2 linked regions of the Homo sapiens genome follow. The protein of the gene in region 1 interacts with the protein of each later gene in a pairwise test. Each region holds a gene or a part of one and is shown in the gene's direction. Other genes may lie near its edges.

Evidence for each region.
Region 2: the proteins of DHRS7 (region 1) and ETV5 interact in a two-hybrid assay, tested with the Homo sapiens proteins (one large-scale study listed by BioGRID and IntAct).

Annotation. Positions count from the first base shown.
Region 1 is NC_000014.9:60,154,535-60,159,722, reverse strand, and holds part of DHRS7 (dehydrogenase/reductase SDR family member 7 isoform 1 precursor), read left to right. Parts: intron 1-3,570; coding exon 3,571-3,723; intron 3,724-5,188. UniProt on the Homo sapiens protein: NADPH-dependent oxidoreductase which catalyzes the reduction of a variety of compounds bearing carbonyl groups including steroids, retinoids and xenobiotics.
Region 2 is NC_000003.12:186,101,746-186,106,089, reverse strand, and holds part of ETV5 (ETS translocation variant 5), read left to right. Parts: intron 1-147; 5' UTR 148-221; coding exon 222-266; intron 267-377; coding exon 378-465; intron 466-593; coding exon 594-641; intron 642-734; coding exon 735-785; intron 786-4,344. UniProt on the Homo sapiens protein: Binds to DNA sequences containing the consensus nucleotide core sequence 5'-GGAA.-3'.

The DNA of each region.
Region 1 (5,188 bases):
GGATAGGGTACATGAATCTGTGCAGTCAGTACCTGATTGGGGTCACTTTTTCACAGCATGATGGTTATTTTCTTGTATATCTTACTAAGCCTATAATAAAAGACAGGGCTAAACCCACAAATCAGAGCAAATTTGATAAAACATTCATCTTAAGTTTCATAAATATGTGCTATTCTAAATTAAGTTTCCAATACATTTGCACATTCTCATAGACTAACATAATACACAAACTTATGGAAGTTTCCTGTTATGCTATGAATGTTGCCTACATCTGACATTAGCTTCATAAATATTCAATGAAACCACAAACAAAGGTACTATCACTTTTGAAATCTGTCCAACATATAAAGAAAGGTCAGCAGCAATTCCATAAAACAGAAGGGCTTCAATTCTGTATTTTCTTTTGCTTTTTGTGTCAGTTGTTTGAAAAACACTAGAAGCTGACATGAAATTTTCTGTGTATTGTCTAAGAAACTTGGTTTTCTGATTTTAGCTTGAGATTTTCTTCCGTAACCGCATCTCCTCTGACAGGGAGATCTTGAAGTGTATGTTGGGGTTCCAACACTTGATTAATAAGCTGTGTTTTTCCCTCCAATTCCAAATGATTTTCAGCATCAACTGCATCCATGTCAATATTTGTCGTCTTGGGTAACAAACTTTTGGGCCTTGGATACAAAATCCTTGATGAATGTTTGAGGTGCTGGGAGAGGAAGGGATGGGGAGGATGCCTCAGGCTGGACACTTGGACCCACCGACACCAGAAGTTTGATTTCTTCTTTGTCAAACCACAAGGCAGGATTACTGCCCACTGCTACTGGTTGATAGCATTTAAAAGCTTATCATATCAGTATAAAAAAGATCCCTGGAATGATTAGACTTTCCCAAAAAAGGAGCTGAAGCCTTCAGAGATAATTAGCTTCCTCATCCTGTGAGGGAATTAGAGATGGGTCAAGGGCTTGAGAAGAGAATTCTCAAACTGGAGTGGGGGTTGAACTATCACTTTCCTTTCAACTCTTAAGAATCTACTTTCAGGGGCTCTTAAAGGGAGGCCATTATGTATACCAGATTCTGTGGAATCGGGAAACAAACGGTGCTAAATAAAAAAGTTTCTTCAGGGTGGGAGGAAGAGGCCAGAATTGTGATTGTATTAAAAGTTTACACCATCAGCTTTAAATATTTGCTTATGTGTGTAAATATCAAGAGGTCTTTGTTAGCTCGACACTAGTTAGTAAATCCTGTGTTTCTAAAACAAATGATATTCACTCTAGAGTGTGATGATTGCAGAACTTGGGAACAACAAGTAGTCAATGAATGAATAAATGATTATCTGAATAGATGTTATGTTGTTCTTGATAAAGTCCTATAGGAAGGTGGCCCAATTGTGCCTTTTCACAAAAGTACGTTATATGACAGGAAAGCATTGTAGCCCAGACATAGTATTTGGGATGTTTCCATCCTTAGTTGAGATTTTTTTTTTTTTTTTTTTTTTTCCGACAGAGTCTCACTCTGTCACCCATGCTGGAGTGCAGTGGAGCAATCTTGGCTCACTGCAACCTCTGCCTCCCAGGTTCAAGCAATTCTTGCACCTCAGCCTCCTGAGTAGTTGGGGTTACAACGATGCGCCACCACACCTGGCTAATTTTTGTATTTTTCATAGAGAACAGGTTCCATCATGTTGGCCAGGCTGGTCTCGAACTCCTGGCCTCAAGTGATCTGCCCGCCTTGGCCTCCCAAAGTGCTGGGATTACAGATGTGAGCCACCGTACCTGGCCTTAGTTGAGATATTTACATGGAACCTTTTTCTTAAGGACAAGTGGTATTTTCTTGAATGTCTAAGAAACAGTTGGGTTTTAAAATATTGATCATATGTAAATGTGTATATCATGAAATAGTGGACAGTGTGGGCTTTGGAGCTAGATATACCTGGGCTTATATCCCGGCTCTGCCAGGGTTCTTGGGTGTTTATTCAGTAGTTATTTATGGAGCCTTTTCAATATTCCAGTCTTTGCTAAGCACTGAGGCCACAGCAATGAACAAGGTAGACAGGGTCCTACCCTTAATGGAATCTATGGTCTAGTGGGACAAATTAATCTCTGTAAACCTCAGTTACCTTTTCTGTAAAACTGAGATAATAATACCTTTCCATACAGTTCTGGTGAGGCTTTTAGTAGACAATGTGCTAAGTACATAGGAAGTAATGTAAAAACGTTAAGCCATTAGAATTGGTAACTCTGTTTTCCTGGCTGGAGAAGTTAGGAGACATACGTTATTAAGTGACTGTTCTATGTTTTGCTGTAGTAAAGTCCATCTGTTAAAAAACTTGAGCAATAATTATAATTGACGTTTATTAAACACTGAGTATGTACTAGATACTGCCCTGAGTGCTTTCCATGTTTTAACTCATTTCTCAACAATCCTGTGAAGGATGTGTTCTTATTCATCACATTTCCAGTTGTGGAAAATTAAGGCACCAAGTTCTCACCTGGGAGCATTTCAGTGCTGTGTGTGATGGAGCTGGCATTTGAACCCTGGCAGTCTCCAGGGATGGTACTGTTAACATCACAGTTAGGATTTAGAGCTGTTTAAAACAGTACAATCATTTCCTGATTTTAACTTTTCTGATCTAAAATCGGAAATGTGATGTTAAGTGATACGATATTTGATATTTTTGATAAATAACATATATTTTAGTAAATAAGTCACCCAGGAACTTTGCATAACAGTGACTTTACGGGTTCAGAGAGACAGTGAATATCATCTCCTGAAGTGCTAATAAGTTTTTCATTGGAGAAAAGAATAAACCATTTGTCATTGCTTTAGTACTGTAACATTTGTAGTCTTTTAAGAGGAACATAATTGGAGAAGCAGAGTACAATATTTCATCTCTCTGTAATATGCATTTGTTCTTGGGTGAATTACTATATTCTCCTAAGATGAAAGCTCAGGCATCTGGGGAACATTTTTACAAAATGACCTTGAGCTGATAGGCATCAGGCATTATTGGCAAATGGGGAAAATACTACTTTAAAAATCTAGGATGTTTCCATCAACAGCACAGAACTTGGTATATTTAGATTCTTCATCAACCTCCATTGCAAAATATTAGAATAATAGAATTAAAAACTGGATGTGACCTTCAGCCATCATCTAATCTGAATGCCTCATTTAATGGCTAAGGAAAAGTGAGTCCAGACAGTGATTTTTGTATTTACTTAGCCTGTTTATCTTATCTATCATATTTATCTTACCTGTTTGTGTTAAATAGAGCCTTAGAGTGAAACCATGAGGTTATAAGGCTTACCTTGAAGTAAAGTCTGGAAAAGTCATGAAGGTTCTGTAATATACAAATACTGTGTTGATAACTGTTACTAGTATGATTTGTATTAATGCTTTTTTTTTTTTTTAGTTAAGAAGGAGATGCTTTCTTAGAATATTTCAAATTTTAACTCTATACATCATGCCTTCATATTTAGTGGTATTGTTTAAGGCTTTCTTTTTTTTTTCTAATCTTGGATTTATGAGCGTAATTCATTGCTTATTTTCTTCCTTCCATTTACATTCCTTCCATAGAATGGGAGCTGACTGATATGGTGGTGTGGGTGACTGGAGCCTCGAGTGGAATTGGTGAGGAGCTGGCTTACCAGTTGTCTAAACTAGGAGTTTCTCTTGTGCTGTCAGCCAGAAGAGTGCATGAGCTGGAAAGGGTGAAAAGAAGATGCCTAGGTAAGCGGATCTGAAATAGCAGCGGTGCTTCCTAGAAATAAATCAGTCCAAACTCAAATACAGTTTTGGGACTTTTAGAGAGGAGTGAGATTTCCCCCCGGCTCCAAATGTTCTACATGCTTCATCTCAGTTCCTCTCCTTTTTGCCTTAATTGGCTGCCCTCGCCTTTTTCTTCTTTTCTGCCACCTTTCTATGCTTTTTTTGCACTGACTCTTGGCATTAGGGAGTGACCAACAATTATATAAAATGCTGGTGGATTTTTAGTGACCAAGTATCTTAGATTTTTGTCTTAGAGAAAAAACAGTTGGGTTCTTATCCATGACATACATGTATCTGATCATAGAAATTAGGAAGAATCCTTACTCATTTTATTAAAGTATCAGATATTAAAATCATATGGGATAAGACTTATTATATAGGATAAAAGAACAGGAATGGAATTAGCTTTAAAAAATACAACTTGAGGTAATACTTTCATATTCACATAAAGGGCAACAGTGTTAATATTTTTGTTTGAATTTTGGTGTAGTTATGTTTACTTTTTTCTTTTTGAGATGAAGTCTCACTTTGTTGCCCAGGCTGGAGTACAATGGTGTGATCTTGGCTCATTGCAACTTCCGCCTCACAGGTTCAAGCGATTCTTGTACCTCAGCCTCCTGAGTAGCTGGGGCCACAGACGTGCACCACCACACCCAGCTAATTTTTGTATTTTTAATGGAGACGGGGTTTCACCATGTTGGCCATGCTGGTCTCGACCTCCTGACCTCAGGTGATCTGCCTGCCTCGGCCTCCCAAAATGCTGGGATTACAGGTGTGAGCCACCGCACCCAGCCATTATGTTCACATTGAAAGCAACTTCAAGTATAAAGTTATTATTTTTCATGGAACATTTATTAATAGTACCTAAACTGAGATAATTTTGAATTTTCCAACAGACCATTTTTTGGGCCATCTCTCTACCTGTCATTCTTTTAAATCTTTAACTTTGCTGATCGAGCTAACCACCCAGAAATGAGAGTTAGTTGCCACAGTAGTGCTCAGCAGGGCAACAGGCCTCTTTCATGATACTGCTTTCAAAGGCCTCTTGTGTTTTTGCACTGGGCCACTTCTTTTGATAGTTGTTCCTCTACTGCTGTGACTTGCAAGTCCTGTACTGGTGGAGTAGATGAACCAGGTCAGCATTTCTTACCTGGCACAAGGCTGTTTCCTTTTATCTTGCAGATCTGTAGTGCCCACTTTTTCATTTAATACAGTTGATGTTTCACGCTTAACTCTTTTGCCCATGAAGTCTTTTTACCTCTTCTATTTTCTATACTTGCTTGTTTTTCTTACTGATGTTACTTGTATTTCAAGGTTAGAGTCCAGGAAAATTAGTTTCAGTTGTTCTTTTGATGAACAGAAAGCCAATCACAAAGCAGCAGCATGTTTCTTGGTTGGGAATTTCAGGCATGTGTCCTTTTCCCTG
Region 2 (4,344 bases), on another chromosome or scaffold:
TGTGTAAAGCTTGCACCTTGAGTAGGTTTTAAGTACTTCACAGAAGGGTAATAATTTTGCACAGGCCCTAAAAAAAAGGCAGTCTAAAATTGTTTCATTTCTTTTTTTCCCCCCTCTTAGTTAAAATCTCCCAAATTCATATTACAGGAGGATCCCTTTTCCCCCAGAAATTACTCAATGCTGAAACCTCTCAAAGTGGTATTAGAGACGCTGAAAGCACCATGGACGGGTTTTATGATCAGCAAGTCCCTTTTATGGTCCCAGGGGTAAGTTTATGTGGCTTTTGGTTTGTTTTGTCCTCCCTCTCCAATATGAGTCTTCCCCCTGTGGACCTCTTTACTACACTTGAGCCTTCACTTTCTGTTGGCCTCTTTCAGAAATCTCGATCTGAGGAATGCAGAGGGCGGCCTGTGATTGACAGAAAGAGGAAGTTTTTGGACACAGATCTGGCTCACGATTCTGAAGGTAGTAAAGCTTTCCCTGATTATGTTGTGGCTTCCCTGCTCCCAGTGACAGTAGCGTGTAGATTCTTCCCTGTCTTCTCCCTAGCGAAAGAAATATCCTCATTCTGGGGTCTTCTTTTTCAATTTCAGAGCTATTTCAGGATCTCAGTCAACTTCAAGAGGCTTGGTTAGCTGAAGGCAAGTTTCATGGATGTCCTATTTTCCATATAAAACATTTTACTGTGCTTTTTAATAAAACTTAAAGGTCTAAAATAAAAATCTATTTTCCAGCACAAGTTCCTGATGATGAACAGTTTGTCCCAGATTTTCAGTCTGATAACCGTAAGTACCTTTCTGGTGATGGCACATTTGTTCTGAAATTGTTTGGTCTTAGATCATCCATGTCTAGAATATGCTTTTTTCAGCTATGGCCAGATTTAGACAGTAGTATGCATTTAGTTTCTTCTAATAATTCAGAATTAACCCTGAAAACTTTTATTTCATAATAAAATTATTTCTAAAGTATTTCTACTGTATTGCAGGTAAGATTTACTGAACATAATTTTATCCTAAATTTCTTTTTACCTTAAGAATATTGTAAAGCTGACTGGGCACAGTGGCTCACACCTATAATCCCAGGGCTTTGGGAGGCTGAGGCAGGTGGATCACTTGAGGTCAGGCATTCAAGACCAGCCTGGCCAATATGGTGAAACCCCGTCTCTACTAAAAATACAAAAATTAGCCAGGTGTGGTGGTGGGCGCCTGTAATCCAAGCTACTCAGGAGGCTGAGGCAGGAGAATCACTTAAATCCAGAAGGCGGAGGTTGCAGTGAGCTGAGATCGCATCACTGCACTCCAGCCTGGGCAACAGAGCAAGACTCCATCTCAAAAAAAAAAAAAAAAAGAATATTGCAAAGCTTTAAGCTCAAAATTATAAATTAACTGACAAAATATATTTGGTGTTAGGCCAAGCATCTATTAATCACACATTGTTTTATGGCTTTTTTGGGGTTTGTTTTATAAATTAAGTCCTTGATGTGAATCATGAACCTGATATTTCTCTTTTTCTTAAAGGTGCAGAAAATAGTTAATGGAAAACTCCAGTTAACTTTGGCTTCATCCAACATGTTGTCAATTTTGTCTCTACCCCTAAGCTGACAAGGGGTGGTCACAGAGTGGCCTGATTTACTCTTACTTTTCGTGTAGTTGCTGTGGCTTTTCTCTTCAGAGAAGAGAAACTTTTTCTTAAAATGGCCACTAAGTGCTCATTACTAGAGAGAAAATGCAGTGGGAAGCTCAAAAGATGGCTTTCAACACTGGCAGGGGCATGGTTACTTTGCACTGATCTTTTGGGGCTGTCCTCAACAGGTTTGGGAGCTTTTATGGTCTAGGCAGAGTTATGAAGGACAAAGCCGGCTGATGAAATTTGAGCAGCACAGGGCTGCTCTAGAGAGCATTAGTCACTGGCGAATGAGCAGGTTTAAGAGAGGCCTGGAGAAAATGCTGCCTCTCTTGAGAGTTGCATCATAGAGAAATTCATGTCTCTTAGTCATAGTTTATAATAGCAAGCACCTGAGCCATGCAAGGACTCAATTTCTCATTTTGGACCAACAGATTCTTCCCAGCTTTGTTTTATCTCTGGGTAGGTGGGTGTATGTGTGTAAAAATGCCACTGGAGAGAGAGTATCTTAGGTCTCTCTCTAAGTAAAAAGTTGGGTATTCCAAATCTTTTAAATGTAAGAGCAGAGGTAACAGCTAAACATTCCTTAATGATAGGCCTCATGTCCAAGGCACAATGCCATGAAACTGTAAAAGGGAATAAACTGGAACACACACATGCATGGTTACCTTAGCTTTGTCACAGCTTGCTGTGGATGTGTTCTATGGGAGAGTAAATGCATGTTAATTATTGCCCTTTGATTGCTTTCGAGTGATTGGGAAGCTTGCCACTGAAAGACTAAATAAAGATAATCCAAGTGTGTGTGTGTGTGTGTGTGTGTGTGTGTGTGTGTGTGTGTGTGTGTGTTTGCAAGATGAAAGACAGGGTTTGTAATCCAACTTTGTTCTGTGTTGACAATTTGGCCCAGCCTTTCCAGTTCTTGCTCAGAGCAGCATAAACTGCAGTCTGTTTGGGAGGTGGCTTTCTTGGCAGAGGTTCTTTGAAATGCTTTTATGACACTTTTGTTTGTTTCTCTGTAACCCAAAAGAGTTAAAAGGGAGATGAGATGGCTGCATTCAAATTGATTGCATGTGCTGAAGCAAGGGTATGTTCTTTGTCAGCAAGCAGGATTTATATTTGGAGAGATATTTATCTGTGGGAATAGGCTAAAGTGAAGAAATCAATAAATGTGTTTTGGCTCTTTAGAAATAATTTCTGCTCAGCAAATAGAATGTGCTAAGTTCTTTAATTAAAATTCCATACCTCAAGTGGAGGTAATTTGGGAGATGTTTCTGCTTACCAAGTATGATGTTTTTTTTACTTTGCTTACTTTTTGTTTTAACTGCCTAAGGTTGAGCCTTTCTGTCTTTTAAGGATAAAAGAGATGGTTGACTAGCCTAGAAAAGGTCTTCTAATGATTCTTTCCCTCTGACTTTATTTCTTGAGGTAGAGCTTCAAGAAGGGATAGATTCAAATAGAATAACTTGCTTAAGAAGCAAGGCAAGAACACAAATGTGGGTGGTGCATCTTTGAGCCATTCATTCTTGCAAAAGCAAGTTTGTTTGCCTGCAGTTCAGACCAACAGCCAGAAGCATGAGGAGGAGCTGGCAGAGCCCACAGCCGGCTGCATGCACTTACTTTTCCATGAGCGCTTTCCACAGCCTCGAGTTCAGGACCAGCTTCACTCCAGTCATTTTCTGGAAGAGCTCGTGATTTTTTTCAGGGGAGGGAAGAAAACTCATTCAAATTTAATGAAACCTTATGAGTTGGTTTGACTCACTTAACCAATGAATATAAGCCAAACTTAGATTTGCCAGGGGAAAGCAAACCTTTTTTTTTTTTTTTTTTTTTGGAGAGAGAGTTTTGCTCGTCACCCAGGCCAGAGTGCAATGGCGCAATCTCGGCCCACTTACTGGGATGTCCACGTCCCAGGTTCGAGCAATTCTCCTGCCTAAGCCTCCCGAGTAGCTGGGATTACAGGCACCTGCCACCATGCCTGGCTAATTTTTGTATTTTTAGTAGAGACGGGGCTTCACCATGTTTGCCAGGCTGGTCTTGAACTCCTGACCTCAGGTGATCCGCCCACCTTAGCCTCCCAGAGTGCTGGAATTACAGGCGTGAGCCACTGTGCCCGGCCTGTAACAAATATTCTTACCAGTGGCCACTGGTAATACACTTTCCTATTAATAATGATTTGATAATTTTCCATTGTATATGTGTAAATTTATTGTATACATGAAAGAAAGAGAAATACTAAGAAATGTAGGTAATATTTTTATTTTGGAATGTCAGTTTTAAAGATTATGGCTTTTTTTTTTCTCTAAACACTAAAAGTTCAACTTCTAAAGAGATTATATTTTGTAAGTTTCTTAGAATTGGGTTTCCTGCCCATAGGGATACATCCTTAAGTCTGATTTGAGTGAATGAAACCATTGCTTTTATATCTTATAGAAATGCCCAGCTTACTTCTAGCTGTACAGATTTCACCTCTACCTCACACATATAGATATCAGTAAAGCATGGAGACTCTGAAAGGTCAAATTCAAGGGAATAGAAATCTATAGATCATAGGGATTCTACCAGTGGACCTCATTGTCCCTTGGTCCTAAGAAGTAACTCTGAAGATCTCAGATTGCTTGAGTTGGATGTCCTTTGTAGAGACAAGCTTGCCCAGCCCCCTCCTTTCACAGCTATTCCCAAATAGCTGAAGAGACTGACCAGTAGTGGGGGCAGATGGGAAGG